4 linked regions of the Homo sapiens genome follow. The protein of the gene in region 1 purifies or fractionates together with the protein of each later gene. This does not show direct contact. Each region holds a gene or a part of one and is shown in the gene's direction. Other genes may lie near its edges.

The links.
Region 2: the proteins of WDR3 (region 1) and NSUN5 fractionate together in Homo sapiens (co-fractionation; one large-scale study listed by BioGRID). This does not show direct contact.
Region 3: the proteins of WDR3 (region 1) and CLNS1A purify together in Homo sapiens (affinity purification with mass spectrometry; one large-scale study listed by BioGRID and IntAct). This does not show direct contact.
Region 4: the proteins of WDR3 (region 1) and EIF4E purify together in Homo sapiens (affinity purification with mass spectrometry; one large-scale study listed by BioGRID and IntAct). This does not show direct contact.

The regions. Positions count from the first base shown.
Region 1 is NC_000001.11:117,948,056-117,955,982, forward strand, and holds part of WDR3 (WD repeat-containing protein 3), read left to right. Parts: intron 1-349; coding exon 350-451; intron 452-1,695; coding exon 1,696-1,781; intron 1,782-1,939; coding exon 1,940-2,075; intron 2,076-2,778; coding exon 2,779-2,835; intron 2,836-3,920; coding exon 3,921-4,021; intron 4,022-4,241; coding exon 4,242-4,353; intron 4,354-4,472; coding exon 4,473-4,607; intron 4,608-4,890; coding exon 4,891-4,941; intron 4,942-5,420; coding exon 5,421-5,486; intron 5,487-5,534; exon of another isoform or gene 5,535-5,951; coding exon 5,952-6,044; intron 6,045-6,524; coding exon 6,525-6,572; intron 6,573-7,032; exon of another isoform or gene 7,033-7,175; intron 7,176-7,259; coding exon 7,260-7,303; intron 7,304-7,927. UniProt on the Homo sapiens protein: Part of the small subunit (SSU) processome, first precursor of the small eukaryotic ribosomal subunit.
Region 2 is NC_000007.14:73,305,901-73,314,621, reverse strand, and holds the start of NSUN5 (28S rRNA (cytosine-C(5))-methyltransferase), read left to right. Parts: upstream 1-5,795; 5' UTR 5,796-5,831; coding exon 5,832-5,924; intron 5,925-6,068; coding exon 6,069-6,191; intron 6,192-6,864; coding exon 6,865-7,039; intron 7,040-7,119; coding exon 7,120-7,228; intron 7,229-8,721. Other genes in the region: E3 ubiquitin-protein ligase TRIM50, read left to right, coding at 1,112-1,701. UniProt on the Homo sapiens protein: S-adenosyl-L-methionine-dependent methyltransferase that specifically methylates the C(5) position of cytosine 3782 (m5C3782) in 28S rRNA. m5C3782 promotes protein translation without affecting ribosome biogenesis and fidelity.
Region 3 is NC_000011.10:77,628,660-77,636,586, reverse strand, and holds part of CLNS1A (methylosome subunit pICln), read left to right. Parts: intron 1-6,687; coding exon 6,688-6,824; intron 6,825-7,927. UniProt on the Homo sapiens protein: Involved in both the assembly of spliceosomal snRNPs and the methylation of Sm proteins.
Region 4 is NC_000004.12:98,895,565-98,903,491, reverse strand, and holds part of EIF4E (eukaryotic translation initiation factor 4E), read left to right. Parts: intron 1-1,509; coding exon 1,510-1,616; intron 1,617-7,927. UniProt on the Homo sapiens protein: Acts in the cytoplasm to initiate and regulate protein synthesis and is required in the nucleus for export of a subset of mRNAs from the nucleus to the cytoplasm which promotes processes such as RNA capping, processing and splicing.

The DNA.
Region 1 (7,927 bases):
TTAGGTTTGCATTTGCTATTTTGTTTATTCTGATTTGCCTATGGTCATGATATTTTCCTTGTGAAGTTGTGTAACCAATGAAAGTAATGCATCCAGTACTGCATGGTGGTATTATTCCATACTTCTACACTATGGTAGCCCTGCCAAGGTTAACCCAGCACATCAGTAGGGGATTTAATAGTATTTAATCAGGTAGGAAATACAGAACATGGAATGTGGGATCCATTTCCTAAGCAATGGATCACATTTTTGCAGCTTGGTTATGAAGTCTTTTCTAAATTGTGCAGTCATGAATCATGGAGGTTGTACGTATGTTCATTGGAGCTGTGCTCATTTTGTGTCTTCCCAGACAGGGAAGCTGCAGCTTTATGACTTGGCTTCAGGGAATCTGCTGGAGACAATAGATGCACATGATGGAGCTTTGTGGTCCATGTCCCTCTCTCCAGATCAGGTAACTAAACCAGATTTTAAAGCCCTGGAGTTCAGCCCTGTGGCTACCCTGATTTCTCTCAGGGTTTCTTTAAAGAAAGCCTGAGGTTTTTTTTTTTTTTTGGTCTAATCTTTAGTGTTTGTATATGATGCCTTCTTATAAATGACCACCTGTCATTATGAAATGAAATCTTGTTTGGCTACTTTTGCTTATCAGCAGCGTGACATCAAATTGCTTACCATCATGATTTTTTTGCCAATGTTTTGTAATACTTCTTAAGGGGGAATATTCTCTTGGGCAACATGATGCAGAGAACTGAATAGACTTTGCTGCTCCCCTTTTTTCCTCAAACAAACATCTATGACTGTATAAGCTAAGTAGTTTTAGCAAGTATGTCAGCCCTTACAAGTCAATAAATATGTGCTCACCTTCAGAGCAGTTCCTGGCAAAAGTATGCTTATTCTAATAATGGTGCTGTTGCTTAGAAAATCTTGAGATTTTTTTTTTTGACAACACCTTAAGAAATTTTGGCCCATTTATTTAAATATTCTCAATGATAGACAATTTTCATCCGTTGAAAGTAGAACTTAGTTTTGGAAAAAATCACTGAAGTTTAGAGTGTTTAATACCACTTGGGGTCCAAACGAAACAGCTGTGAGTCTAAAATAGTAATAAATCTTGCATTTGTAGAGTGTTCTATCTTTTCCATAAACTGTGTGGTCTTTTTTTCAACAAAACTAGGGATTTACGGAAAGGTTGTTTCCTGTGTTATAAATCTATGAGGGACAGACACTTGAGATCCAGTGTTCTATGTACTTTACACTAACACTGCCATGTAATGAGACTAATTTTCTTGATAACGGAAAACAGCTTCAAAACTATTTTAAGTAGGGACATTGCAGGACTAAATTTATATCCTTCTGAGGTGAATACTTTAAACAAATCTAGATTATCCATTCTATGTATATTTTTCAAACTGGTTTACTGAGAGTTTTTGTTTCTTCTTGATGCTAGATAATAGTATAACTAGAACTTTTCATTAGTTATTATTTCTGCCTATGTTAGTCGATGGTAGGAATTTTCACATAAGGTTTGTGGCAGCAGACCCAAAAGATCAGTGAAAGGGGCTAGGGAGAACCACGTTTTTCTTAATTTTTATCCCATGACGTTAAATAAAAATACTTTCTTAGACTTTTAAAATGTATCTTCATAGCAAAGTTTTTATGCTAAAATAGTTTTTAATTGAAATTTCATTTGATTTTCAGCGTGGCTTTGTGACAGGTGGTGCAGATAAATCTGTCAAATTCTGGGATTTTGAGTTAGTGAAAGATGAAAATAGTACCCAAAAGAGGTGAGTAGACATTTTTTGTGTCCATTTTTTGGAGTGAAAATGGGGAGCTATGGAATGGCCTTTTGACGTCTTATATCATTTGTTGTGCTCTAAAGAGTTAGGATTTGTCTGAATTTGTATACTCATTTATTTTTTCTTGATGTTTTTTGTGGTGCTAGACTTTCTGTGAAGCAAACCCGAACTTTGCAACTAGATGAAGATGTTCTGTGTGTCAGTTACTCTCCCAATCAAAAGCTATTGGCTGTGTCTTTGCTGGACTGTACTGTGAAAATTTTCTACGTTGATACTTTAAAGGTACAGTGGTTATGCCTGCGGATATTTTCCCTTTCTGACTGACTGACCTTAAGAATTTGGGTTGAGGCTATAAAGAAGTGGCCTTGACTGTGCCCAGCGATAGTACATTTCTAAAAATGTGTGTGTGAATCAAAGCAATGTAACTATGCTAGGGAAGCTAGCATTTTAAAATAATTCTATGGTTCATGAATTTTGTTTAAAGCAAGTTATATTTCATATGTTCAAAAAATCTTGTGGACAGAAAATTCTGTCATACTAAGTAGTTATAAGAGCATTGCTAGGTGTCCTGGGCAGTGATTTCACACTTGGCTATATATTAGGATCATCTAGGTTGCTTTTAAAAATATAGATTACTGAGCCCTATACCCAGAGAGTTGATAGGACCAGGTTGGGCCTGGGAAATTTTTTTGTGAAACAAATGCCCTGGAATCTTTTCAGTGAGGAGATACAGAGATCTGACTGAGGCAGTAAGCTTCTGGGGGCTTCCTTGCCTCCACTATACTGCAGTATTCTTGGCAAGCACATGGAGGGTCTGTGTAGTGGACACAGGTACTCCTGCCAAGCTGTCTTTTGTGGGTTGTCTTTGAAAATACAGATATAAAGCAATTTAAAAATGTGTTTAAAGTTATATTTTAGACCTACATGTAATAAATTATACCCATATTTTATAGACAGACATTAATTATGTTTTTTTGATGTTTAGTTTTTTCTGTCACTGTATGGACACAAACTGCCTGTTATATGCATGGACATCTCTCATGTAAGTAGTTTAAATAGTGTCTCAGTAATATGTTGTCTTTTTTACAGCAGATACTTTCTTAATTCTGGCTTGATGTCTTCATCTTAGATTATTTGTTTTTATCATCATTCTGTTATATATCTTTCTCCAAAAACAGTCTCAAATTAATATATATTGTATCTTATATATATTACTTTAATGTTTTCAGAATAATTTTGCAAATATCATCTCAATCAATCCTTATAAATATTATCTCTTTCCCTCTTGTAGCTCTCCCAAATAGTACTTTATTGTTTAAAATACTATAATTGGTAGAGTACACTAAAATATGAAAGACTTTAAAAAGGCATTCCTTTTTATTCTGAAGGATAATGCTGCTGAGGAGCTCGGATTTATATTTGGATAGTTACGGTATTTTACACTATGTAGACTTTTGGTCTCTTGACCAAAATCATTTATTTCCCAATACCTAGTTTTGATTAGGAGTGGCAATGTATATTAAAAACAATGTCTATTCTGCAGAGTGAGACTCCGTCTCAAAAAAAAAAAAAAAGTCTATTCTGTGTGAAAGGAGTTGACCTCATAGCTGTCTGTGGTCAGTGCACTAACAAAGTTAAGTTACAATGTTAAATGTATTTCTTTTTTTTTTTTTTTTTATGTTGACAACCATTTGGACCACGCATTGAAATAGGAGAGATAAGAGAAATACTGATAGGGAATGTGGGCTACATAAACATTCTAGTAGAGTCTTTCTCAGCTTCTCTTCTGTTTCTTTCTCCCACTTTCTTTCCAAATCCCATGCCAGAGATTAGAAAATCTTTTTCCTATCTAACGAAGTAAATAGATAACCCTATGTCAAGGCACAGCACTGCCCTGTGACAGTACGAAAGTATTTAAGCCACAGAGTTCGTGCTTTTACTTAACAAGCTTTTTAAGTTCCTCTGTAGGTAAGAGCAAAGAATTCAGTGTTTTTAGTAGAGATGAAAATCAGTTTTTTGGCTTCATTTTAATGTGTTTGAAAGAAATGGGTTAAATATTCTGGTTAGCTTTTTATTCATATACGGAATTCAAAAATCAAGGTAGTGTTTTACTTTTATTTCTCATAGGATGGAGCACTCATAGCAACTGGCTCCGCTGATAGGAATGTGAAAATCTGGGGTTTGGACTTTGGGGACTGCCACAAGTCTCTCTTTGCACATGATGACAGGTATGTATAGTCTTTTCAAATGTCTCCCTTTGAGTCACCTGTAAGTTATCACTTTCCTTGAGCATCTGTGTCTATTTTTCAGTGTTCTCAGGCAGTGATACAAGTTCTAAAATATAGTCAGACACCCTAGAACTAGCTAGTCAAAAGCTATTTATGTGTGTAAAACTCTTTTTACTAACCTGGAATTTGATGACATTTTAATATTTCTGTCACTTTTCAGTGTGATGTACCTACAGTTTGTACCCAAGTCTCACCTCTTCTTCACTGCCGGAAAAGATCATAAGATTAAACAGTGGGATGCAGACAAATTTGAACACATACAGACTCTGGAGGTAACCACATGCCTTCTGTGCTTGCTTGGTACTTAAGAAATACTTTTAAGAATATTTACATTACCCACTAAGTAGTGGTCAATGAATGAGGTATTCTTTATTTTTTTTTTCTCCTCCAGGGTCATCACCAGGAAATATGGTGTTTGGCTGTAAGCCCCAGTGGAGACTATGTTGTATCATCGTCCCATGACAAATCTCTGAGACTTTGGGAGAGAACAAGGGAGCCTCTTATTCTTGAGGAAGAAAGGGAGATGGTAAGAACTTTAGGCTTGGTTACAAATATGCCAGTAGGTATCTGACAGGCTGTCCTAGTTGAAGTTTTCTGTCTAGTGCAGTTACACCTGATGCATTGCCAAGTCCAAGAACCTTCAGGAGATCTTTTCAAGACCATTGTCACCCATTTCAGAAGCTAGGCAGAGATAAAGATGCCATTAGGGTATTATGTTGTCAAAGGAGCAGCTTCTCGCTTCCTCATTTCTCTTCATATAGAGACCATGTTTTTTTCTCTCAAATTAATGTATATCTATCTCATGGCAGGAAAGAGAAGCAGAATATGAGGAGAGTGTGGCCAAAGAAGACCAACCAGCAGTAAGTAAATTTTGGGGACCTTGAGATTATGCCCCATATATAGTTATCTTATTGAAATTGACTATAATGTCCAGAATTTCTAATAGAATTAAAATTGAGGCTAGAAGTTGCAGGTATCACCAGCTGATAAAGAATCTGTGTAATTCTTTCTCTTCAACTGTATATCCTAATTTTGTGGTTCAAGTGATTGACCAAATTTGCTACTGAATAATTATTCTGTCAATTGAGACTTTAGGGAATTATTTTATTCACTGTAGCACAAAAATAAAAATTAGAAAATTTGGATATTCTCTTTTTAAACATTTGCAGGATGTTCTTACAATAATACATATGCTAAGTTCTGTTACTGGTAGCTGATAACACTGTTAGTATTTTCATAAAATAATAATAGCTGTTCTCATATGGATGTAAGATTAATTTATCAGCTCTTTAACTCAACAGTCAACAGTGTTATTCAAGGATTTCTTTGTTTCTGGCAGGTTCCAGGAGAGACTCAAGGTGACAGTTACTTTACTGGAAAGAAAACTATTGAAACAGTGAAAGCAGTAAGTTGATATAGAATGTGGTATCTCGTTTTTTAATAAGATCTCAACTTTTTAGTAAAAGTTTTATTCTGTATCAACCAGAAAGCCATTTTTTTGGCAAAAAGTTGATGAGATTTAAAGATGGGGATTATAACCTGTTTCCTTCTCTTGTAACCAAAGATGGGAGTAGTCCTGAATCTCTTTGATCAATATGTGCTCCTTTCAGGTGTTCCTGGGACCTGCCCTATTCAGAGTGTCTAGATATCATCCCACCTGAGTCCATGACACTCAGTCTCTTCCCTGTACATTAAAAAATAAGAAAACCAAAAATGTCTTTAAATGCTTTTTGGCACTCTATTCGCACGTCTTTATTAAACAGATTGAAGCTATTTCATTTGGCAAATTTCTGGTCAGTTCTTCCAGTTTCAGTGTCCTGGGATGATGGAGTATGTTGTGATGACTTCTTTCCTTTCTCATCCTCTGTAGGCTGAGAGGATTATGGAGGCTATTGAGTTGTACCGAGAAGAAACTGCAAAAATGAAGGAACACAAAGCCATTTGTAAAGCTGCAGGGAAAGAGGTAATAAGAGAGTACAGTAAGTTACAGTATCAATAAAGGGAATTCCCAAGGAGAAAAACCATTGTTTTGGGATTTATTAACTAAGATCAGGATATGCAATAAATGGAATAGAATCTTTCCAACTCACTATATTAGAAGAAATTGAGGAAGTGTGGGAAGAAGGGAACTTGGTCTTAATGAAAGCGAAGGAAAGGAAATTACAGATTGAGGTGATTATTGTCTTGAGTAGAAACCCACGTTCTATGTTGGTTTGGGAGGCAGGGTAACCATTTCAGATTTCTAGATAAAATACATTGTCCAAGCTCATTCATGAGTACTATAGAAACTAACAGGTTTGATAATTCTTTTACACTCTGTCAGTTTTTTAGGGTCTCTTTTTTCCCTTTTCAAAATTATAAAATACAGTTACCACTCTGTCTATAACAAGTGCTACCTAAGTCTCAGTTTTTTTAATGACTTGATTTAATAATTTCTTCATAGGTTCCACTTCCCAGCAACCCCATCCTAATGGCTTATGGCAGTATCTCAGTGAGTAAAATGTCTAACGGTTTTCCTTTGTTTATTAAAAGGTTACTTACAAGGACAAGAAAGGAAGTAGAGGCATTATGATTTGGGGATGGATTATTGGGAATACTTTGTCTTCAAAAGTCTCTTTTGAATCTTGGCATTCTCTAGGATATTTTGTATTTCAAAAGGACCACTTTAGTGTGACTTCCCAAGCCAGCCTTTTTGGTTGGACTGGACTGGCATTCTTCTGTTTTCTAGTGCCTGTTTATGTTCAGTGTCCAAAGCCCTCTGAAGATTCTGTTAATCTAAATTAACTTTTGAATCAGCCTTCAGAAGGAAAGTTGACAGAAATCAGTCTGATGAGATAAAGAAGAGAGAGAGGGGAAGAGTGATGGGAGAATGTATGTTTATCTAGTAATCTCTAATTAGTATTTTATTGCATGTCTCATCACAGTAATTTTGTGAGTCAGGGTATCTTCACCTTATAGATAAGGAATCTGGCTTGACTTGTAGCATAGTTGGTAAGGGGCAGAGTTCAGTTGTCAACCCAGATCTGACTGACTCTAAACTCATGCAGATCTTGCCATTTTAGAATACTTTTTCTGAAGTAAGAAGGAGGGGTTCCTGTTTTATAGGAGATAGAAATTAGAGAACTTTAGTAGAAACCAACCAAGAGTATCACTAATGGTATTAATCCTTCCTTTATAGCCTTCAGCTTATGTATTAGAGATTTTTAAAGGGATCAAGTCGAGGTGAGTGAGTCCTTGCGCACAATTTTTGTAATCTGTCAGCAAACATTTATGAAGTGCTTATCTGAACGGGAAATAAATAGAAATTATAATTGATGGTTATCTTATAGGTTTAACTATATCAAAGTTTTGATGGAAAATAATTTATAATGTTCTTTTTGAAGTGCTAGAACTAGGAAGTTCCTTCTAAAGTATGAAGAGAGATGCTTTTAAGGACAAATAAAGGGGAGTGATTTATGTTGTAGGCGATGAAATAATATATAATTCAATTAGAAGCACCAATTGTTAATTTGTTTTATATTTTGGCTTCTTTTCTATGTACATACACAATTGGAATATTATATAAAGTTTTATATTCTGTTCTTTTTCACATATTTCCTGAACATTTGTTTGTTGTTCATATTCTTCAAAAAAAAAAAATCATTGGATTCAGAATTATTCCATTGTATGAATAATTACTCGATATTGCATTTGTTTCTCCTTTTTGGCTATTATCAGTGGCTTCACTGAATATGTTTACACATATATCTTTGTCATCATTATTGATTATTTTTCTTAAGAGTCCTAGCAGCCTAATAACTGACCAGTAGGCATAAGCTTTTAAAGTTTTATATTGCCAAATTACTT
Region 2 (8,721 bases), on another chromosome or scaffold:
CTGTCTCAGCCTCCCAAAGTGCTGAGATGACAGGCATGAGCCACTGTGCCTGGCCCAGCTGAGCGTTCTTGTTCTCCATCAAGGTGGTGACGGTGTTAATTCCTGCTCCAAGGACAGGTGGCCTCTTAGTGGGGACATCCCCTTTGCTGGCAGCTTTCTTCTCAGTCAGGGCCAACAGTCTCTGCTTCTTCTCTTGCTTTGCCCCTGGTCTGTACTTCTGGGCCAGCTTAAGCAGCTGAATAGCTGTTTGGCGGTCCAGGGCCTGGGTGAACTGGTTAATAGCAGGAGACAGTTTCTGCTACTTATAGAGGATGGCTGTCCGCCACTGCACCCTGACCGAGCAGGACCATTGCACAAAGTGGGCGAGGTCCGTTTTGGCCTGGAAGTCCTGTCCAGTGCCAAAAGTCTTAGGCCTTTTCTCAAACGGGATAAACCACTTTCTTGGCCTCCTGCTTCTTCACGCCAGCAGGGGCCGGAGCCACCTTCTTCCCCTTGGCCTTCTTTCCTTGCGGCAACTTGGGTGGCGGGAAGGGGTGGGAGGCGGGCAGGGGGGAGCACATCTCACATTTCTGGGGTAAACGGATCAGCTGGTAACTAGCAAAAAGCTCAGGTGGGCTAGTTCGTCCTTGAATAGGCTGACTAGGCTAGCAAATCCAACAGCTGCAGTTGTTATGGGTTCTCCAGAAATCCCTGAGGGCTGAGCTATAGGCTCACAGGACAGGTGTCTTCCGGGTCCTTCCCACAACACCTCTGTGTCAGGCAGGCAGGCCAGAACCCCGAGCCCAGTGTCCATTTCTTTCTCCAGCCACCTCAGCCCCCCACAGCCCACCAAGCTGCTCCCTTTTATATAAACACTGTTTTTGCCTTGGGTGGATGCAATCAGTCTGTGATTGATCTTCCTTATGTAAAACTTCATTCATTCATTCATTCATTCATTCATTCATTCATTCAGGGAGCAGCCCTGTACTGGCCCCTTCTAGACCCTGGGGCTAGAGAGATGAGGAAGACACAGCCCCTCTCCTTGGGGAGTTCAGGGCCTCCATCAGCTTCTGTGGGCCGGGTCTGCTGCCCTCCACGTGGCCTCACAGACCCTCTGTGATCTCCCTCCCAGCCCCGGAGCCTCTCAAGTTGGACCCTGCCACTGCCCACCCACTCCTGGAGCTCTCCAAGGGCAACACGGTGGTGCAGTGCGGGCTTCTGGCCCAGCGGCGAGCCAGCCAGCCTGAGCGCTTCGACTACAGCACCTGCGTCCTGGCCAGCCGCGGCTTCTCCTGCGGCCGCCACTACTGGGAGGTGGTGGTGGGCAGCAAGAGCGACTGGCGCCTGGGGGTCATCAAGGGCACAGCCAGCCGTAAGGGCAAGCTGAACAGGTCCCCCGAGCACGGCGTGTGGCTGATCGGCCTGAAGGAGGGCCGGGTGTACGAAGCCTTTGCCTGCCCCCGGGTACCCCTGCCCGTGGCCGGCCACCCCCACCGCATCGGGCTCTACCTGCACTATGAGCAGGGCGAACTCACCTTCTTCGATGCCGACCGCCCCGATGACCTGCGGCCGCTCTACACCTTCCAGGCCGACTTCCAGGGCAAGCTCTACCCCATCCTGGACACCTGCTGGCACGAGAGGGGCAGCAACTCGCTGCCCATGGTGCTGCCCCCGCCCAGCGGGCCTGGCCCCCTCAGCCCCGAGCAGCCCACCAAGCTGTAGGGCCGCCCGGAGTCCTGCCGGCCCACAGGCCCATCCCGGCGGGGCACCGGGGACTCGCGGGCTTCTGCTGGGTCCCGCCTGAGGTGATATCGTCACTGTTTAGGAAGGTCTTCAGGCCTGTGTGTCCCTGGAACATGTAATGATAGGGAACAGGACCCCAGTCCCTTTCCCCTCAGCCAAGGGTGTATTTGTAAACTTCGGCCCCCAGGCCTTGGCAGCCAGGGACACACTGAAATCCCCATGGTTCCTGCCACTTGCTAACCATGCTATCTGCGCAGACGCTTCCGAGGGCAGAAATAGTCCCATGTATACCTTTTCCATATTACTGTGAACTTTCAACTACTATCAAGGATAATAAATTTGACATTATTTCTTTCTCTTTAAATGATTTGCACATATTAGTTGCTATACATACTGCTTTATGCTCGAGTCTTTTTTTTTTTTTTTTTTTCCTGAGATGGAGTCTCTCTCTGTCACCTAGGCTGGAGTGCAGTGGCACGATGTAGGCTCACTGAAACCTACACCTCCCGGATTCAAGTGATTCTCCTGCCTCAGCCTCCCGAGTAGCTGGGATTATAGGCATGTGCCCCATACCCAGCTAATTTTTGTATTTTTAGTAGAGATGGGGTTTCGCTGTGTTGGCCAGGCTGGTCTTGAACTCCTGACCTCAAATTATTTACTTGTCTCAGCCTCCCAAAGTGCTGGGATTACAGGCGTGAGCCACCGTGCCCAGCCTCGAGTCTAGTTTCAGAGACAGGATCTTGCTCTGTCACCCAGGCTGGAGAGCAGTGGCACAATTGTAGCTTACTGCAGCCTTGACCTCTCAGGCTCAAGTGATCCTCCTGCCTCAGCCTCCTGAGTAGCTGAGACAACAAGTGTCTGCCACCATACCCAGCTAATATTTAAATTTTTAGTAGAGACGGGATCTTGCTATGTTACCCAGGCTGGTCTGGGCCTCAAGCAATCCTCCCACCTTGGCCTGCCAAAGCGCTGGGATTACAGGTGTGAGCCACTGTGCCTAGGCTGTCATGCCCCTTTGACTCACCATACCCACAGGCTAAGTGGGTCCTGGAAGCTCTGGGGTAGCCCTCTAACCAAGATGCTGGCTCTGGCCACTGGAAGTCAAACTGGGTGCACAGACCAATAAGAGGGCCTGAGGGAGACTAGCTGGGGCAAACAGCAACCCTCAGCCTCCCCACAATCCTGACTTTCCTCCCTCCTCTCCTCAGTCTCCTTCAAGGATTCAGCCTCTCCTCCTGGCCACTCATGGCCTGAGGACCTCCAGGCTCCTCTTCTGGCTGTCTACCCCTCCACACCCATAGCTCCAGTCATCACTTCCACAGGGATGACTCAGAAGTTCCCTCTCCGGGAGACCCGTCCCTTACATGCCACATCCAGTAGCGCTCCAGCCATTCAGCAGCTCCGCCTGGACGTCAAGGGCATGTCCAAAACCGCGCTCATGATCTTCCTACTCCCCCATCCCTGAGATTTATCCTGTGGCTGTGGTGTCCTGTGGCTACTGTAACAAATGACCACAAACTTGGTGGCTTCAAACAAATTTAATCTCTCATGGTTCTGAAGGCCAGATGTCCAAGATCACGATGACGGCAAGGCCGCGCTCCCTCTGGAGACTGTCGGGGAAAACCTGCCCCTTTCCTCTTCAGCTTCAGGTGGTGGCTGCCATGCCCTGGTGTTTCCTGGCCCTGTGGCCGCATCATTCCAATCTCTGCCTCCGTCTTCACGTGGCCTTTTCTGTATGTGCCGGTCTAATCTTCCTCTGCTTCTTATTTTTTTTTTTTTTTTTTTTTTTTTTTTTTTTTTTTTTGAGACAGAGTCTTGCTCTGTTGCCCAGGCTGGAGTGCAGTGGTATGATCCCAGCTCACTGCAACCTCCGCCTCCCAGGTTCAAGCAATTCTTTTGCCTCAGCCTCCTGAGTAGCAGGGATTACAGGCATGCACCACCACACCTGGCAAATTTTTGTATTTTTAGTAGAGATGGGGTTTCACCATGTTGGCCAGGCTGGTTGCGAACTCCTGGGCTCAAGGGATCTGCCAGCCTCGGCCTCCCAAAGTGCTGGGATTACAGGTGTGAGTCACTGCGCTTGTCCTTCCTCTGCCTCTCTCTTATAGGGATACTGGTGATGCCATGCAGGACCTGCCCAGATAATCGAGGATAACCTTCTCTCCAAATCCTTCCCCTGATCATTCCTACAGATCTCTTCCATAGAAGGTGACATTTCCAGGCTCTAGGAATTAGGACCTGCTCTCTCTGGGTGGCCGTTGTTCACTCCATCACCCCACGTTTCCCCATCCTACCAAAAGACACAGCAGCATTGTGTGAACTGCCCAAACTGAAAACCTACGAGTTATTCTCGACCTGTCCTTTTTCCTGAGCAAGTTCTGTGGATTTAACTTAGCGGTCACACTGCCAATTTCAACCTAACTCCACTGCCACCAACTCAGTCCAGGCCACCAGTTCTTGTTTAGGTGACTCCCATGACCCCCATTGGTCTCTCCCTGCCTCAACTCTGCCCCCTCCATCCTATATCCCCACACTGTAACCAGACTGATTATTTATTTTTTGGGGAAAGAATCTTGCTCTATCCCCCTGGCTGGAGTGCAGTGGCACAATCTCAGCTTACTGCAACCCCAGCCTCCCAGGTTCAAATGGTTCTCCTGCTTCAGCCTCCCAAGTAGCTGAGATTACAGGTGTCTACCACCATGCCTGGCTAATCTTTGTATTTTTAGTAGAGACGGGGTTTTGTCATGTTGGCCAGGCTGGTCTTGAACTCCTGACCTCAAGTGATCTGCCTGCATTGGCCTCCCAAAGTGCTAGGATTACAGGTGTGAGCCACCACACCTGGCCAGACTGATCTTTTAAAGAAGTATATGTTAGCACAGCACTCCATGACTTAAAAACCTTAAGAGGACTACCATTTCTTTCAAGATAAAAGAATAAAATCCTCGCTGGGCACAGTGGTTCATGCCTGTAATCACTGCTTTGGGAAGCCGAGGTGGGAAGATCACTTTAGGCCAGGAGTTCGAGACCATCCATGGGCAACATGGTGAGACCACATCTCTACAAAAGATAAAATTAGCTAGGAGTGGTGGTGCATGCCTGTAGTCCCAGCTACTTGGAGAGTGAAGTGGGAGGATCGCTTGAGCCCTGGAGTTTGAGGCTGCAGTGAGCTATGACGGTGCCACTGCACTCCAGCCTGGGTGACGGAGTGGGACCTCATCAAAAACAAAAACAAAACCGTTATTGTGGCTTTGAGGCCTGGATCATACCTACATCACTTAATTTGGCCAAACCGGCCCATTTCAGGTACCCAAATACCCCACGTGCTTTCTTGCTTGGCTCTGGGACTAATGTGGTTACTGGTGCAGGGTGAATGGCAGGTATTGTAAACCACATTGTGGACCTAGAGTTGCTAGGACCTTTTTTGCCATTACACAGAAGCCTCCCTGAGAACACAGCCATTGGATGACACATGGCAGAGGAAGATAAGACAATAAACGGAGACACAAAATTATGGCCAGCGCGGGGGCTCATGCCTGTAATCCCAGAACTTTGGGAGGCCAGGGTGGGCAGATCACCTAAGGTCAGGAGTTCAAGGCCAACCTGGCAAACATAGTGAAACCCCATCTCTACTAAAAATACAAAAATTAGCCAGGTGTGGTGGCGTGGGCCTGTAGTCCCAGCTACTCGGGAGGCTGAGGCAGGAGAATTGCTTGAACCCGGGAGGCGGAGGTTGCAGTGTGCCGCGATTGCGACACTGCGCGACAGAGTGAGACTCTGTGTCAAAAAAAAATTATATATATATATATATATATATAATGACTAATACACATGTGAAGATATTTAACCTCAGTAACTTCAGTTAAACAGCAGTAAAATCCCATTATTTGCCCATCAGATTGGCAAAAACTTAAGAACTAGAGAAGAAGTGGCGAAACGGGCTGCAGCGTCGCACTCCCTACCCCGGCAGGTGCGCGATCACACACACGCCTTGCAGGGCGACTTCGACCGGCACTTCCGGTCCCGGAAGGTCGTGCTTTTTGACCCCGGAAGTCCGGGCGGGCGCCGAGCCGGGTGCGTTTTGCCACAGAGCCGTAAAGGCGCGCGGGAACATGGGGCTGTATGCTGCAGCTGCAGGCGTGTTGGCCGGCGTGGAGAGCCGCCAGGGCTCTATCAAGGGGTTGGTGTACTCCAGCAACTTCCAGGTAGCGGACCTGGGCGCGAGTAGTAGGGGTGGGGAGTGAGGAACCCGGGGTGGGGTCGGACGGGCCCGGGTGGGGTCGGGAGGTGGGGCCCGGCGAGGAGGGCCGGGGGAGCCCCCACCCAGCTTGTCTTCCTCGGCCACACAGAACGTGAAGCAGCTGTACGCGCTGGTGTGCGAAACGCAGCGCTACTCCGCCGTGCTGGATGCTGTGATCGCCAGCGCCGGCCTCCTCCGTGCGGAGAAGAAGCTGCGGCCGCACCTGGCCAAGGTGAGGGGAGGGGAGGGACGGGGAAGTGAACCCCGACGGTCAGCGCTTTGTCATCTGGTCTCAGCTCTGCTGCCGTGCACGGCGGGACTGGAGCAAGTCGCTCATCTGAAATGAGTATGAGCCGACCTTCCCTGGGTTACGAATTAAGATGGGATGAAAATGCTTTAACTTTGAGTGTTTTGAAGGATTAAATAACCGAAGTACAAAGTGGTAGTGGCGGAGACTGTAAGGAAGTCGGGCGTGGCGGCGCGCACCTGTGGTCCCAGCTACTCGGGAGGCTGAGGGAGGAGGATCACTTGAGCCCAGGAGGTCGAAGCTGCAGTGAGCTATGATCTGGCCACTGCACTTCAGCCTGGGCGACAGAGCTAGACCCCATTCTAAAAAGAAAACCCAAACCCACGAAAGGGTAATGTTGGCAAGAAGTTGGGTGCAGAGGTGTCTACTGGTGAACATCGGTGGAGAAAGGGTCTAAGGCTGGGAAGCGAGACGCCAGGTTCCGATCCTGTTCTGTAGTTAATTTCTGGTGTGATCTTGGATAAGGTATCCCACCTGTATCTTGTCAGGTGATCTGTTTAGCCATTCCATTGCCGGGGCTCCATTAGAGTTAGTTCTAAGGCATTCATGCTTCATGCTTAGGGCATTTTTGTTTTTGTCTTTGTTCCCTCATTCCCAGGTGCTAGTGTATGAGTTGTTGTTGGGAAAGGGCTTTCGAGGGGGTGGGGGCCGATGGAAGGCTCTGTTGGGCCGGCACCAGGCGAGGCTCAAGGCTGAGTTGGCTCGGCTCAAGGTTCATCGGGGTGTGAGCCGGAATGAGGACCTGTTGGAAGTGGGATCCAGGCCTGGTCCAGGTAAGCTGGAAGGAGTTGGGGGGTGGGGGAGGCGGGGAACTTTGCTCCTGCCTACTCACTGCTCATTGCGTCCTACGTAGCCTCCCAGCTGCCTCGATTTGTGCGTGTGAACACTCTCAAGACCTGCTCCGATGATGTAGTTGATTATTTCAAGAGACAAGGTTTCTCCTATCAGGGTCGGGCTTCCAGGTGAGAGCTTAGAGCCCTGGCTGTCCTCATCTAGGGAGGTGTCTGGGGTATTGGGAAGAGAAGTGGCTGGATAGTTGTGACTTTGCTCTCTGGGCTTTCTTCCTACCTTTCCAGCAGTTTATCCATCTCCAAGGTTTGTCTTCCTGCCATCCCTTAAACATCGAACTCCTAGGAGCCTCATCCTACATTCTTCTTGATCTCTCCGTTTTTTCTCTAGCTTTAACTCCTGCCTCCCACCTGGTGATTCTCACCACCCAGTGTAGACTTCCCTCTTGCATTCTTACCTCCTCAGGTTCATATGAACGCACCACAGATGCTAACAGTCGCTGCATTTGTCATCTTTCCTCTCAGACTTTACACCTAGTACATCCCCAGTTAAATCTAACAGATGTCACCATCTTCCACCCATTTGGTCAAGCCAGAAACTGAGTCATCCTAGGTGCTTCCTTCTCCTCCCTCCAATCATTTACTCCCCTACCTTGAGCATCTTTCTCAGCTCCACTCCTTTCTCTCTTTTTTTTTTAGACTGAGTCTCACTCTGTCATCCAAGCTGGAGTGCAGTGGCATGATCTTGGCTCACTGCCTCCCGGGTTCAAGCGATGCTCCTGCCTCAGCCTCCTGAGTAGCTGGAATTAGAGGCTCCCACCACCAATGTCCAGCTAATTTTTGTATTTGCAGTAGAGATGAGGTTTCACCATGTTGGCCATGCTGGTCTGAAACTCCTGAACTCAGGTGATCTGCCCGCCTTGGTCTCCCAAAGTGCTCGGATTACAGGCGTGAGCCACCACATCTGGCCTCCACTCCTTTCTCTTCAGCCCCTCGGACACTGCCTAGGTTAAGCACTCATTTCTTATTGGGATGACCACAAGAACTTCCCAGACTGGTTTCTCTGCTTCCAGACTGTCTCACTGCATTTTCCTTGAGGTTGACTGTAGGAAGCTCTAAAGCCAGATCTGATGCTGTTACTCCTCTGCTAAGCTTTTTTTTTTTTTTTTTTTTTTTTTTTTTGAGACAAGGGTTTTGCTCTTGTTGCCCAGGCTGGAGTGCAATGGCGCAATCTCGGCTCACTGCAACCTCTGCCTCCTGGGTTCAAGCAATTCTCCTGCCTCAGCCTCCTGAGTAGCTGGGATTACAGGGATGCAGCACCACGCCCGGCTAATTTTGTATTTTTAGTAGAGACGGGGTTTCTCCATGTTGGTCAGGCTGGTCTCGAGGCTCCTGACTTCAGGTGATCTGCCCGCCTCGGCCTCCCAAAGTGCTGGGATTACAGGTGTGAGTCACCGTGCCCGGCCATGCTAAGCCCTTTCTTGGCTCCACTGTGCTGTCCCTCCTGCTTTCTCTCAGGTCCATCTGCCACGGTGCTGCGTGCACCAGTGTGCCAGCAACAGTGGCTGGTCCCTGCCCCGTGCCTCCTCCACTGGGCTCACACCTGTCTCGTTTTGTCCTTCGTTGGCTCTGAGAAGCAGCCTCTGCCCCTCTCCCTTTCTCCTACT
Region 3 (7,927 bases), on another chromosome or scaffold:
GTCGTGGGGCCAAAATTCTGCCTACTACAGAATCCAGAGCACAAAAACTGTAAAGAACCTCTGCTTTAAAGGGAAATTTAGACATTGAACAAGGTTTAGGCTTCAGGCCAGAAACTGAGATAGGACATATGGATGGGAGGAAAAGCAAGATTGAGGTGAGAGGCAGATAATGAGTTTGGTCAGGACATGTGTGGAGTAGTTGTACATATGACCGTGTTGGGCCGGGCGCGGTGGCTCACACCTGTAATCCCAGCACTTTGGGAGGCTGAGGCAGGCAGATCGCTTGAGCCCAGGAGTTTGAGATCAGCCTGGGCAGCATGGCGAAACCCAGTCTCTACAAAAAATACAAAAATTAGCCAGGCATGGTGGCGGCCTGTAGTCCTAGCTACTCAGGAAACTGAGGTGGGAGGATCACCTGAGCCCAGGAGGTCGAGGCTGCGGTGAGCCGTGATTGTGCCCCTGCACTCCAGCCTGCATGACAGAGTGAGACCCTGTCTCAAAAAAAAAATAAAAATAAAAAAAGAATGTGTATCTTGGGAAAGTGGTATTAAAGAGAGATGTTTGGAGGTCGTTAAAGTGTTAGTGTATACTCATGGAAATGGATTAGATATCTCAGAAGAGAAGAGGACCAAGTGTAGAACCCTAGGGATACGCCGACGGGTGGGTCATGAAAGAAGAAACTTGAGAAAGGAGGAAGGAGCAGTCAAAACAAAATGTGAAGAGCATATATTGAGTATTGACAAGGAGATCTTTGATAATTGGGGAAAGCAGTTTCTTTGAAGTGGTGGAAGATGGAGCACAGATACATTCCTAGTTCCCAGGCATTCCTTTTTTATTCATGACATTTCTGTATGTTGACGCTTCTTTCAGTATTATAACTCCTTTTGAGGGACAGTCCTGTATTGATTTTTGCATTTAGAAGAATTTCAAACCTAAGATCCAGTGTGGTGGCTCACGCCTGTAATACCAGCACTTTGGGAGGCTGAGGCGGGTGGATCACCTGATGACAGGAGTTCAAGACCAGCCTGGCCAACAATGTGAAACCCTGTCTCTACTAAAATACAAAAATTATCCGGGTGTGGTGGCGTGCACCTGTAATCCCAGCTACTTGGGAGGCTGAGGCAGGAGAATCGCTTGAACCCGAGAGGCGGAGGTTGTAGTAAGCCGAGATCATGCCATTGCATTCCAGCCTGGGTGACAGAGTGAGACTGTCTCAAAAAAAAAAAAAAAAGAAAAATTTCAAACCTAAAGAAAAGTTGTGTTATTACTACCCATACACCCTTCACAAAGATTTATTAGTTAACATTTTGCCATGTTTATGTCTCTGTTTTTCTTTTTTTTCTGAGCCATTTGAGAATTGTCGACGTTTTCCACTTCCTGTTCAGAAGAACAGGGACATTATCTTGTATAACCACAATACAATTCTCATACTAAGGAAGTATAACTCTTTTTAAGTTCTTATCAGCTTTTAAAAAATTCTTAGCCTGGGCAAGGTGGCTTACGCCTGTAATCGCAGCACTTCGGAAGGCCAAGGTGAGCAGATCCCTTGAGTCCAGGAGTTCTTGACCAGCCTGGACAACATGACAAAACCCCATCTCTGCAAAGAATACAAAAACTGCAAAAATTAGCCGGTCGTGGTTGCACGTGCCTGTAGTGGCAGTTACTATGGGGAGCTGAGGTGGGAGGATTACTTGAGCCTGGGCAGTTGAGGCTGCGGTGAGCTGTGATCACACTACTGCATTCCAGCCTGGGTGACAGAGTGAAACCTTGTCTCTGAAAAAAATTAAACATTATTTGTTTCAGCTTTTCACAAACAAATCTCTTATGTTTCTTCTTTAAGATTTTTTTTTTTTTTTTTTTTTTGAGACAGAGTCTTGTTCTGTCGCCCAGGCTGGAGTGCAGTGGCGCGACCTTGGCTCACTGCAAGCTCCGCCTCCCGGGTTTAAGCGATTCTCCTGCCTCAGCCTCCTGAGTAGCTGGGACTACAGACGTGCTCCACCACGCCCAGCTAATTTTTGTATTTTTAGTAGAGACGGGGTTTCACCATGTTGGCCAGGCTGGTCTCAAATTCCTGACCTCATGATCCACCCACCTTGGCCTCCCAAAGTGCTGGGATTACAGGCATGAGCCACCGTGCCCGGCCAAAATAATTTTTTTGTGTGTGAAACATAAATACAAAAAAAGGGTATAAATACACACACATACTGTGTACATATATATACAGTCCAGCCGTTCTTCATCTGAGGGAGTGAGGGAGAATGCCCAGAGATGATAAAGCTGGAGAAGGAGAGAGTCATGTTCATAAATTTGGCTTATAGCCTTTAGGCTTTGGTGAAACTATTTAGTTTGAGGCAGAGAGGGACAGCAACAGATTAGGTTTGGCTGGACTTGGTTTAGTCTCTCAGATTTGTGTTGAAAGATTTAGAATCTCCGGCTTATTTCAGAGCTTAGTTTTTTATAGGAAGTTGAATTTTTTTTTTTTTTTGAGATGAAGTTTCACTCTTGTTGCCCAGGCTGGAATGCAATGGCGCAATCTTGGCTCACCGCAACCTCCGCCTCCTGAGTTCAAGCTATTCTTTTGCCTCACCCTCCCGAGTAGCTGGGATTAACAGGCATGCACCACCATGCCTGGCTAATTTTGTATTTTTAGCAGAGATGGGATTTCTCCATGTTGGTCAGACTTGTCTCAAACTCCCGAACTTAGATGATCCATCTGCCTCGGCCTCCCAAGATGCTGGGATTATAGGTGTTAGCCACTGCACCCGGCCAGGAAGTTGAATTTTTATCCAAATAAGGAAGATACAGAGGCATGAATAATATAAAATAGACAGTTTAAAACAGGTAAAATAGGTAATCAAATTAAAATTAGGTAATTTAAACTTAAAATTTTTTTTTTGTATCTCATTCCAAAATTAATCTTAAACCAAATAATTAAGTTAACCCAAATTCAAGACCTCTCTTAGCTTCCTGTCCTGTTTTTCATCCCGTGCTGGGAATAAAGGACACTCACCATACTTGTGCAAAAGCATTTGAATTCAGCAAAACATGTTCTCTACATGTTTACTCTGTGTCTAATTCTTCTTGTCTTTCCCTTTTGACTCACGGTTTCTTTGGAACTGGGTATGATTAATTAAATGTTTTAGAAGGATTTCTTCTAGAATATATACAAAGAGTAAATGCAAATCAGAATTTAATGATCAGACAAAACAGTTATATTTTTAGATGATACAGTGAAATCTTTTATGTTTCTCTACATCACTTTGAAAGTTAGAACTTGAATACTTTCAGTAGATTTATTACAATCATCCCAGCAAACTTTAATGGCAGCATGTCTGGCCTATTTCATCGTGGCCTCTGCTAGAATTAGAAAATCTGGTGGTGGTGCAACAAATAATTCATGTGCAATAGGATTTAATTTGTTGTTAATAGGTATTTGTTCAAATTAAAATTGCCAGATTAAATGAATGTACTGTCAAATCTCTTTTTTTTTTTTTTTTTTTTTGAGATGGAGTCTCCCCGTTGCCCAGGCTTGAGTGTGGTAGCGTGATCTTGGTTCACTGCAACCTCCGCCTCCTGGATTCAACCAATTCTCCTGCCTCAGCCTCCCAAGTAGCTGGGATTACAGGTGCCTGCCACCACACCCAGCTAATTTTCGTATTTTTAATAGAGACAGGGTTTCGCCATGTTGGTAGTCTGGTCTGGAACTCCTGACCTCAGGTGATCCATCCACCTCGGCCTCCCAAAATGCTCCCAAAATTATAGGCCTGAGCCACCACGCTCGGCTTATAATGTCAAATCTTTTTTAACATAGTAACATGCTGTTGGAAAAAATAAGTTGTTGAAAGTAAGTTGTTTTCCCATTTAAAAATATCTGTGAATATTAATATATGATTTGCATTTGTAAATCTGAAAAAGTAAAATACAGAAACCTAGGGTTTCTTTTCTTTTTTTATTTAAAAAAAAAAGAATTTAACGATTAGAATAAGTGTTTTTAAGTGTGGAACTTGGCTTCTGTCCTATAGAATGCATAATCCCAGTTCATGTAAAAGATTATGAGAGTTCCATAGCAAATGCTGTGCAGAGGAGCATTTGTATTCTCTCTGCACTAGTAAGGAATTACAGAGGTATTATGATGGCTTTTAAAAGTGAAGGCCATAATTTGATAGGCACTCATTCTATGTTTAGGTTTCAGTTTTTCCATGTCGTCATTGAGTCATTCAAGTTTTATGGCTCTGGATATTTGAAATTATTTTGGACACCCAAATTTGGAATGTTTCTTTCTGAATTGTGATAACGCCAGAAAATTTTTGAGATCAGAAAAGGGCAGTTTATTTGCTTTAAAATAATACAGCTTTTGTAGGGGACTCGTGATACTTGGGCATTATTTCCTCTCCACATTAAAAGGAAAGCAGTGGGCAGGAAAGATGCATACAGCACATAACCTCATTACATAATACAATGTTTCTTTGGAACCAGTAGGAATGAGTTGTTCTGGAAAACAATTTGTAGAGGTTTTATCACTTTTAGCTCTTTAAGATTTATCACTTTTAGGCCAGGCGCAGTGGCTCACGCCTGTAATACTGGCACTTTGGGAGGCCGAGGTGGCAGATCACCTGAGGTCGGGAGTTTGAGACCAGCCTGGCCGTCATGGCAAAACCCCATCTCTATTAAAAATACAAAAATTAGCGAGGCGTGGTGTCACACGCTTGTAATCCCAGCTACTTGGGAGGCTGAGGCAGGAGAATCGCCTGAACCCTGGAGGTGGAGATTGCAGTGAGCCAAGATCATGCTACTGCACTCCAGCCTGGGTGACAGAGTGAGACTTCATCTCAAAAAAACAAAGATTTATCACTTATAAGCTTCCTAGTTTTCCTTTACTTTTTTTTTTTTAATAAGAATGTTGGATAGAAATCTTTCCACATGACAGTGCATATATTCTTACTTTTGCCTTTTGAAAGTATACAATTAGGGGCAGGGTGTGGTGGCTCATGCCTATAATCCCAGCACTTTGGGAGGCCGAGGCGGGTGGATCACGAGGTCAGGAGATCCAGACCATCCTGGCTAACACGGTGAAACCCCGTCTCTAAAAATACAAAAAATTAGCCGGGTGTGGTGGCGGGCGCCTGTAGTCCCAGCTACTGGGGAGGCTGAGGCAAGAGAATGGCGTGAACCCGAGAGGCGGAGCTTGCAGCGAGCCGAGATCCGCCACTGCACTCCAGCCTGGGCGACAGACCGAGACTCTGTCTAAAAAAAAAAAAAAAAGTATACAATTACGTAAGTTTTAGTATATTTACAGAGTTGTACAGTTATCACCACAATCTAATAATCTGCCTTTGTTTTTGGTAATGCTTTCGGTAACTGAGGGTCATGTGGTTAGACATTGATTTCATTTAGGGGAACTGAGGTGGAAAGTTCATCCTCCCCTTCCACTGAACATGAGTGATCTCAGACTGTCACACTGTCATTGTTCCTGCCCAAGGCAGTCCTAGGTTCTCCTGTTTTACTTTTGTTTTTGCTTGGTTAGAAATTAGACAGCCAGGCTTGTTAAAATTGTATAGAATATAGAATGATACAGGGGTCTTACTTCATTAACTTTTAAAAATAATTCATATAGCATACAGTTTAACCATTTAAACATACAATTCACTAGTTTTTAGTCTGTTTACAGAATTGTGCAATTATCACCACCATTTTAGAATATTTTCTTCACCCCAAAAAGAACCTGGTACCCAGTAGCAGACATTCCCTATTTCCTTCTAGCCCTAGGCAACCACTATATTGCATTAACATTTTTTTTTTGACTTCTTCAGGATTTTTTACTTTTTTTCTGCTAAGTGGTACAGCTCCAGATGGATGAAGTATTATCAGAAAATTAGCTAGCCTCTACTGAAAGCTCAAAATACTGATTTTGGTGATGTGTTTCCTTTGTTACACCAATAAAATATTTGCATTTGACCACATTTGAGGGAAAACTAGATCTAGCTTTTCTGTGGCTTTCTCTTAAAGACGTTGAATAAATGAAAGGCTTCAGGGAATCTGTCTCTCAGGGTAATAATTATTTCCTGACTTGCGGTGAGTGTGATTACAGCCATTTCATATATATGTCTTTTAGTGTAGGATTCATGGAGAAATGCATGATTACCAAGGATTTATTGCATACTTAACTCCTGAGCTCTTTGTTAACGGTTTTGAAGGATGTTAATAAAGGAATGTGACAAGTTCTGCTGTCCGATAGTTCACATTCCATAAGGGCACATATAAGACTCATTACCACAGAGTTAAGTGCTAAAATTTGCAAATCAGAAAAGGAAGAGATCTTTATGGACTGGTGTAGTTGAAGGGAGGCCTCATGGAAGAGGGGAGGATTTGCAAAAGCAAAGAGGGTATTTGAAGACATACCAAAAAAGAGTAAGCATGAAAGTCATAGAAACATACATGTGACTGAGGAAAATGGAATTTCAAGTCTGTTTGAATTTATAGCTAGAGGGAAAGAGACCGTAACAGAATTGATCTTAAAGAAAACTCAGTTTCCACTACTGAATTTTCTTATTTTATGAACGTTTCTAAAAAAGTAAACTTGAATTTATTTATATGCATAAAGGTGTCCAAGCTGAACTTTTATATACTTTGTGGTCTTACATGAGGATTTACTTTCTAAAAATAATCTACTTAAAACATGTTTTTCAGCCGCCTGTCTTGGTTAGATGGCTCTGGATTAGGATTCTCACTGGAATACCCCACCATTAGTTTACATGCATTATCCAGGGACCGAAGTGACTGTCTAGGAGAGCATTTGTATGTTATGGTGAATGCCAAATTTGAAGGTATGTATGGTGTAATTTAATCTAATGCCTCCTTTGATAGCAAATTATATTTTAAAAAAGAGTCTTTGAGGCCGGGCACGGTGGCTCACGCCTGTAATCCCAGCACTCTGGGAGGCCGAGGCGGGCGGATCACAAGGTCAGGAGATCGAGACCATCCTGGCTAATACGGTGAAAACCCGTCTCTACTAAAAAATACAAAAAATTAGCCAGGCGTGGTGGTGGGCGCCTGTAGTCCCAGCTACTCAGGAGACTGAGGCAGGAGAATGGTGTGAACCTGGGAGGTGGAGCTTGTAGTGAGCCGAGATCATGCCACTGCACTCCAGCCTGGGCGACAAAGTGAGACTCCGTCTAAAAAAAAAAAAAGAAAAAAAAGAGTCTTTGATAATAATCAATGTAACATTGAGGCCATTGACTCATTTTGGGTAGTAGTTTATTAAGCAAAATTTCAGCACAGCAACTTGGACACTTGAAGTTTTCACAATGGATGTTCATGTGTGTCTGTATATATTTCTCTATATTTACACTTAGAATTCTTCATTTATTATGGATATGTATTTCTAGCTTTTCCTCTAAAGTTTCACTGTTTATTCTGCCTTTCTCTTTTTAAAAGGCACCCTTAGGGGCTTGGATCAGTATACCCTGTGCTTCTCATAATTTAAGATAGAACTGTTTTGTTTTGTTTCAGTAGTGGGTCTCAGTGGTTGTAGGGGGGATATATTTTCCATGGGCCTCCACCAACCTCACCATTCCCCCACATTTGGCAGTGACATTTTGGTTGAAAGAGGAAGGGTATTATTGGTGTCTAGCAGTTAGATGCCAAGGATGCTATTATTATACTAAATATTCTGCTATGCACAGATGGTCCCCCACAACAAAGAATTATTCCATCCAAATGTCAGTAGTGCCAAGGTTGAGAAACTGTAGGATATAAAGATTCTCAAGTTTTGCTTTGGGATAATTGCAAAGACTTGTAAAAGTCTAGTGAAGATGCTCATGTTTAAAATAACGGGTTGCTTTTCTTTGAAGTAGTGTGTAAGAGACAATCCTATGAAGTTACCTACAAGGCTATTGCTCTTTCAAATTTAGATTTTAATATGGTTCCA
Region 4 (7,927 bases), on another chromosome or scaffold:
TGCCTATCTGTAGTCCCAGTTACCGTGGAAGCTGAGGCAAGAAGATTGCTTGAGCCAGGGAGATTGAGGCTGCAGTGAGCTATGAGTGAGACCCCATCTCTAAGAAAAATAAAATACAAAAAAAAAAAAAACCCATATTCTTTCAAATAAATATTTACCACCTTTCTGCTCTGCATTCTTTTAGACAATAAATATTTGACTTACATATCTTGTTATGTTAACATAGATCTCTGTTGTTTGCTGCTTCAGTCTGATATCCAAACACTTGTTGCATTGCCCTTTTTTTGGTATCAGTCTTTGTCCTAGTGCCTTTCTTTGGCTCTCTTCTTTTGTTGACAACAATTTATGATAGTATGAAGAGCTACATGGAAGAATGTGGTGAACACCTATTTTAAATTACTGCCCCCAGACTACTTTTCTTTCTGATATTTTTAGATGACAGTGTTAATTTTGTCTAGCCTAAAAGAAGATTTAAGTTCAAGCCAATGTCCATCTTGTTAGGTTCCATTGAAAATATTAAGTTGCCGAACTTTTAGGTTACGATAGGGTAAACAGTATGCCATGAAGGTAAGACCTGCGCATCATTGGCTTGATCACTTTACAAAGCTTTTTTGTCATCATAATGTTGTTTTGTTTTGTTTTGTTTGTTTTTGAGACAGGGTCTTGCCGTGTTGCCCAGGCTGGTCTCAAACTCCTGGGCTCAAGCAATCCTCCTATTAATCCTCCTATTAATCTCCCGAGTAGCTGGGATTGTAGAGACGCACCACAGTGCCCAGTGATACAGTTGTTATACTCTTGAAACTTTAGTTTCCATCCTGTATCCTTCCTGATACCCCCTTCAGTACCATATGCAGTATCTTAATATGATGGTATGTTAAGAAAGATAGAAGATTTTCCCAACTTTGTTGCATAGTCTGTGACAGTCTTCCTGCTATTTAAAAAAAAAAGTGCAAGTGGAAGGATAACTATAAATACTGTTATATTTTCAAATTTGAGAAACCGTTTGCTCTTTGCTCTTAATGAAGAGATATGAGAATAGAGAATGGTTCTTTAGAGTTTGGTCTGTGGTCTGTTTTATGAAGCAATCTGCTTTAATTCCTTCTTCTTAAAAAATACTACTAGTGCCGGGTGTGGTGGCTCACGCCTGTAATCCCAGCACTTTGGGAGGCCAAGGCAGGTGAATCACAAGGTCAGGAGTTCAAGACCAGCCTGACCAACGGGGTGAAACCCCGTCTCTACTAAAAATACAAAAATTAGCCAGGCATGGTGGCACACATCTGTAATCCCAGCTACTTAGGAGGCTGAGGCAGGAGAACTGCTTGAACCTGGGAGGAGGAGGAGGTTGCAGTGAGCCAAGATCGCACGACTGCACTCCAGCCTGGGCAACAGAGAGAGACTCTGTCTCAAAAAAAAAAAATTATCAGCATATCAGTTCAGGTTTAGTTAGAATATTGCTGTCATAGATGTGTTAAGACATTTAAAATAATGTTTTATATTATTTTCCACTAGGAAACCACCCCTACTCCTAATCCCCCGACTACAGAAGAGGAGAAAACGGAATCTAATCAGGAGGTTGCTAACCCAGAACACTATATTAAACATCCCCTACAGAACAGGTAAGCTTTCTAACACCTAGGTTTTCTGAGTTAGGCCACAAGGTAAATTGTGAATGGGGCAAGTTTGAAGGGAAAGTTAGATTATGAGACTAGTTTTAGATATGCTAAGGTTGAGGGTTCTATTTTCACTTGGATGACCCATGACCAGCAGACAGTTTTATGTGTGAGTCTTGAGTTCAAAAGGAGCTATGTGAGAGATTAGTTTGAAAAGTATTGGTCATAATGGAAGCCACATTAGTAAATAAGTTCCCTTAAGGAGAAGTGAACTTGACTCAGGACAAAGACCGGGGATACTAGCATCATATAGGAGGCTTTTGTTGAAGAAGAATGCCTATGAAGGATGGACATACAAAGACAGTGGTGGTCGCCCAACGCGGTGGCTCACGCCTGTAAACCCAGCACTTCAGGAGGCGGAGGCGGAGGCGGAGGCGGGCGGATCACCTGAGGTCAGGAGTTTGAGACCAACCTGGCCAACATGGTGAAACCCCGTCTCTACTAAAAAATACAAAAATTAGCTGGGTATGGTGGCAGACGCCTGTAATCCCAGCTGCTCGGGAGGCTGAGGTGAGATAATTGCTTGAACCCAGGAGGTGCAGGTTGCAGTGAACTGAGATCGCGCCATTGCCTGCCAGCCTGGGCAACAAGAGCGAAACTCCATCTCAAAAAAAAAAAAAAGAGACAGTGGTGGTCATGGAAACCAAGAAGGTGGTTTATTCTAAGATAGGGTGGTTTACAGCACATGTGCTAAAAAGGTCAAATGAAGCAAGATGTCAAAATATCCATTGGATTGAACACTTTTAAAAAAGTCCGTGCTGACTTGGGAAAAAGTTTTTTAGTAAGGTTCCATAGAGTAGTTCCATAAAACATGGAAAAAGAGATTAGGGCAGTTTGAAGAGTGAATAGGAGATATACAGATGTATAGAGTAAGAACAGGTGACTTGAAGTTGGACTGAGAATGAGAAACGAGAGCCAGGGAATGTGGAGTTTGAAGGTTGGTTGGTTTGTAAGTGAGAGACTAGAAAAGGGGACAGATTAAAATTAGTTAAGTTTTCATAGTTAATAGTGTAACAGGAAATTGAGTATTAGTTCATTATATGGCTTTTCCCAACTCTTCCCACTCCTTTCCAGTAGGTTTGTTTTTATTTATTTTCTGGGGTATATGAGAATTAACTTGAGTTCACTGAATGCTGATGGTGGGAAGAAAATGGCAGTTCAGAAACATTGTAACAATCTAGAGGAAAGTAAATTGGAATTAACTTCTGAGGTTCTTGAAGTATTTCAGTTCATTTCTTGTCTTTTTTTGTTTTTATTTACTTTTTTTAGGGCAGACCATTCACTCTCTACTTAAAAGAGTCCACAAGTCTATTTATAATTGTTTCATTTATTAAAATTTTTTTATGATCTCAATTTTTTTAAATGTTTCCTTTATTCATCATGGAAGACCTACTGAAATAAATAGTTCAAATATGCTGTATGCAGTTTTCTCATAGGAGACCCTTTGGTTCAGTATATCCTCCAGTGAGGAACAAATCAGTTTTTTAGACAATGGAGATTCTCAGCTAGTGGGACATCAGAGGTCAAACAGTCTATAAAGGATAAAATCCTTCCTCAGGGAAGCAATGTACCACATGTATTAGGTTGAACAATTCGTTAGAGGCAGTCTTATATAGTTTAACCTAATAGTAGCACCAAAACCCACATTTTTTTTTCATTTTTTTCAGTGATATGAAACAAACTGTATATCTTCTAGCTGTCTGTGAACCTAGTTCTTGGTGTCACTTTTATTGTGGGGAGAAGTAAACAAGGCATATATCCCTCACAGCTTGAATGGAGTCTAAGAAGGGATTCTTAAGTGTCCTCATCAGTTTAAAAAAAAAAAAAAAGTTTAAATCTTAAAATGAAGTCTCTGGGGACTTCAGTTTCTCTATAAATTCTACTTTTTGTGTAAAATAGCAAGTATCATTTGGAAAAATACTATGTTTTATGGCTCCAATTTTGGCAGTTTTCTCATTATTTACTTCTTGCATTTTACTTTCTTCACTCCCCAGAGTAGTCAATGTTAAATTTGGTTTGTATTCCAGAAGTATTAAATGCACATATGTATACTTTTTAATACATACGTCTATACAGTTGACTTTTCTGTTTGTATGTGCATATTTTACCTCATTGTTTTAAACCACCGTCTTGCATTATATTGATATACCACCATATATTTTATTAGGTTTACATTAATGGCTGTATAGATTTTTCTTTTTACACACAGTGCTGTAATTTACATCCTTACATAATTGTGCACTTGTGTGAATATATAGGGTAAAATTTCAGATCTCCTAGAACAAAGATTACCCTTTAACAACCTTTGCGCAGATACTGCCACATTATTCTGTTTTATTGGCTTAGACTTAACAGTTTGAGAGTTCCTGGTTTCTATATCCTTGCTAACTCATGTGATTAGTCTTTTAAGTTGTTGCCAATCAGATTGGTCCCAGTCTGATTTGGGAAAACAATTTCAGTATTTTCAATTTGCATTTTAAAATTGAAGTTTCAAAATATTTTCATATTGATGATTTGTGGTTTTTATCTGAGGACAGATTATTCAGTTCTTCTATTTTTTTTCTTTTGGATTATCTTTTTTTTCCCCTACTTTCAAGCTAACAAGTTATGGAATATCTTTTCAAGTTTATTTCCAAGCATTTTATATTAGAGTGCTAACTCACCCAAGGCAGGGAAGTTGGAGGAGTATTAAGTCAGAAAGAAACAGGTTATCCATATCATTTGTCTTCTAACATTGTCTGTGGAATTGTATGGTTTTTTTTTTTTTAGAGGTCTTTAATTTTCATGTAGGCAAATACTGCTTTTCCTCAGTGGTTTCTGGGTTTCATATCAATTTTAGGAAAACTTTACCACACAGTTAAGCTTTTTTTTTTAAACTTTTTAATAGTTGCATAGTAGTCACTTGCGTGGATGTATGATATTTTATTTAAATCAGCAGTACTCAAGTATTTGGTCTCACAATTCCTTTACACTCTTAAAAATTATTGGTGACTCTACAGAGCTTTATGTGGATTTTTATCTATTGTTATTTACTATATTTTTACAGTAAATAATGCTAAGATGTTATTTTATTTTTCACATTTAAAAATGTATAATTTCACCTGAAAAACTTGAGAAATGTAAAATTATTCGTTTAGAAAATCTATCACATGTTAACCTAAGTGACATTTTGTAATGAAAATAATTATTTGAAATAAAAAATATATAATGGGAAGAACAGCATTTTTGCCATCTGTTTTTTTTTTTTTCGGAGTCTCGCCCTGTCGCCCAGGCTGGACCTCCACCTCCCGGGTTCAAGCGATTCTTCTGCCTCAGCCTCCCTAGTAGCCGGAACCACAGGTGTGTGCCACCATGCCCGGCTAATTTTTGTAGTTTCTAATAGAGACGGGGTTTCACCATGTTGGCCAGGCTGATCTTGAACTCCTGACCTCATGATCCACCCACCTCGGCCTCGCAAAGTGCTGGGATTACAGGCATGAGCCACCGCACCTGGCCGCATTTTTGCCGTCTTAGAAGTCAACTGGATTTTCATAGCTGTTTCTGCCTTCAGTCTATGGAGTTAAGATGTTTCATTGGAAGTATAAGAAGACAATACAGCCTCACACAGGTATTTGGTTGGAAAAGGGAGAATAGTTTTTAAAAGCCTTTAAAAATAATTGTTGATATGCTCCTTTGATACACTACTAGGTTTCTTTTTTCCCCCCCCTTTTTCGTAGGACACATGCTCAAAGAGATACTAGGTTTCTTAGAGGCTAGTTGCAATGTGGAATCTGAAACCATATCCAAGAATTTTTTTCTACTTTGTTACATTAAAATCCATTGGTCTGTCAGTGTCTTGCATCTGGAATGGATCTCTTACCTGTGTAAGATTTTTAACATCATACACTGCTTATTTGGAAAATAATGGTTCAGTGAGTTATGCAGATCTTCCAATGTTGACACATTTTCTTATATAGTATCAAACAATAATAATTCATTAATATTACCTCTAAACTCATTAAGCGTCTTTGATTTTTAGGAAGTTGTCAGGCTTACAGTGGCAGATGAAATCTTTCTAAAATTCTGATTTTTCTACTGAAAGCTTAAATTTTAAGCAACAATCTTAAGTTCAGACAATTGCCTAAATATTGTATTTTGTTTTACAGTAGTGGAAGTGGTTTTTGTGCAGATTATGAAAAATATGGAAATAGAATGAAATTTAATGAAACTGGTAATGTTTATTGCCTCATCAAAGTCATTCCTTTTTTTTTGTTCTCAAGACGGAGTTTCACTTTGTTGCCTAGGCTGGAGTGCAATGGTGCGATCTTGGCTCACTGCAACCTCCGCCTCCTGGGTTCATTCTCATGCGTCTGCCTCCCAAGTAGCTGGGATTGCAGGCACCTGCCACCATGCCCATCTAATTTTTGTATTTTTAGTAGAGACAGGGTTTCACCATGATGGCCAAGCTGGTCTTGAACTCCTGACCTCAGGTGATCCACCCACCTCAGCCTCCCAAAGTGCTAGAATTACAGGTGTGAGCCACCATGCCTGGCCCAAAGGCATTCTTATATGAAACTCACATTATTAGTACTGTGAGAGTTGGTAGTAATAAATGTACAGTGACTACTCGTATAGTTTTGTGTCACTGTCTTGGTTCTTGCTAAGGCACCAGCAGATTTAACTACTGTTGCTTTTGCACCGTTAGTGCAAATGTGAATACTGAAAAGCAAAGTGCCTTCTTAGCATTATTATGAAAATGGATCTTAGGGCCTCCTGCCTGTCTGCAGACCACATTTTGAGAACTGCTGATTTAAATAATTCCTTGTTGATAAGCACTTAAGATGTTTTCAAATTTTCCAAAACTAAAAACGTCATTTGTTTGTTTTTGAAGACAGGGTCTCACTCTGTCACCCAGGCTGGGGTGGCGTGTAATCTCGGCTCACTGCAGCCTTCACCTTCCGTACCCAAGCCATCTTTCCACCCCAGCTGGGGCCCCACAGGCATGCACCACCACCATTTTAGTATTTTTTGTAGAGTTGGAGTTTTGCTATTTCCCAGGCTGGCCTTGAACTCGTAGACTCAAGCAATTCATCCACCTCGGCCTCGCAAAATACTGGGATTACAGGCATGAACCAACATGCCTGGCTTTTTTTTTTTTTTTTTTTTTTTTTTTTTGGAAGAGACATGGTCCCATTCTGTCGCCCAGACTGGGGAGCAGTGGCATGATAATAGCTCACTGCAGCCTCAAATTTCTGGGCTCAAATGACCTTCCCACATCAGCTTTCTAAGTAGCTAGGTCCACAGGTGTGCACCACCATGGCTAGCTAAGGTGTTTTTTTTTTTTTTTTTTTTTTTTGAGAGATGCGGGGTCTTGCTATGTTGCTCAGGCTGTTCTCAAACTCCTGACCTCAAGCAGTCCTTTCCCCTTCCCCTTCCATTCCCTGTCCCTGTCCCCATCCCTGTCCCATTCCTTGACAGGGTCTTGCTCTATCACTCACGTTGGCGTGCAGTGGCATGATCATAGCTCACTGCAACCTCGAACTCTTTGGCTCAAGCAATCCTCCTGCCTTGGCCTCCAGAGTGGCAGGGACTATAGACACATGCCATCATGCCTAGCTTATTTTATTTTATTTTATTTTATTTTATTGGAGATGGAGCCTCGCTCTGTCACCAGGCTGGAGTGCAGTGGTGCGATCTCGGCTCACTGCAACCTCCGCCTCCCAGGTTCAAGCGATTCTCCTGCCTCAGCCTCCTGAGTAGCTGGGACTACAGGCGCGTGCCACCACGCCTAGCCAATTTTTGTATTTTTAGTAGAGACGGGGTTTCACCGTGTTGGCCAGGATGGTCTCGATCTCTTGACCTCATGATCCACCCACCTTGGCCTCCCAAAGTGCTGGGATTACGGGCGTGAGCCACTGCGCCCAGCCCATGCCTGGCTAATTTTTTAAATGTCTAGTAGAGATGAGGTCTCACTTTGTTGTCCAGGCTAGTCTTGAGCTCCTGGGCTCAAGTGATCCTCCTGCCTCAGCCTCCTAAAATGCTGTTATTACTGGTATGATCCACCTTTCCTGGCCCCATAGATCTTTATGTGTTTAAATGGCTGGGTGCAGAGGTTTTTGTTTTGAAAAAAGATTGAATTATTTTTAAAAATCCAGCATGTATACTTGACCTCGTTGGTGGTTTTCTTGCCTTTTCTTCTTCTTTTTTATTGATAATGGGGTGGCAGTTGCTGACAAATTATCAAGTACATGTTGAAATGCATCTCATTTTTCTGTCTA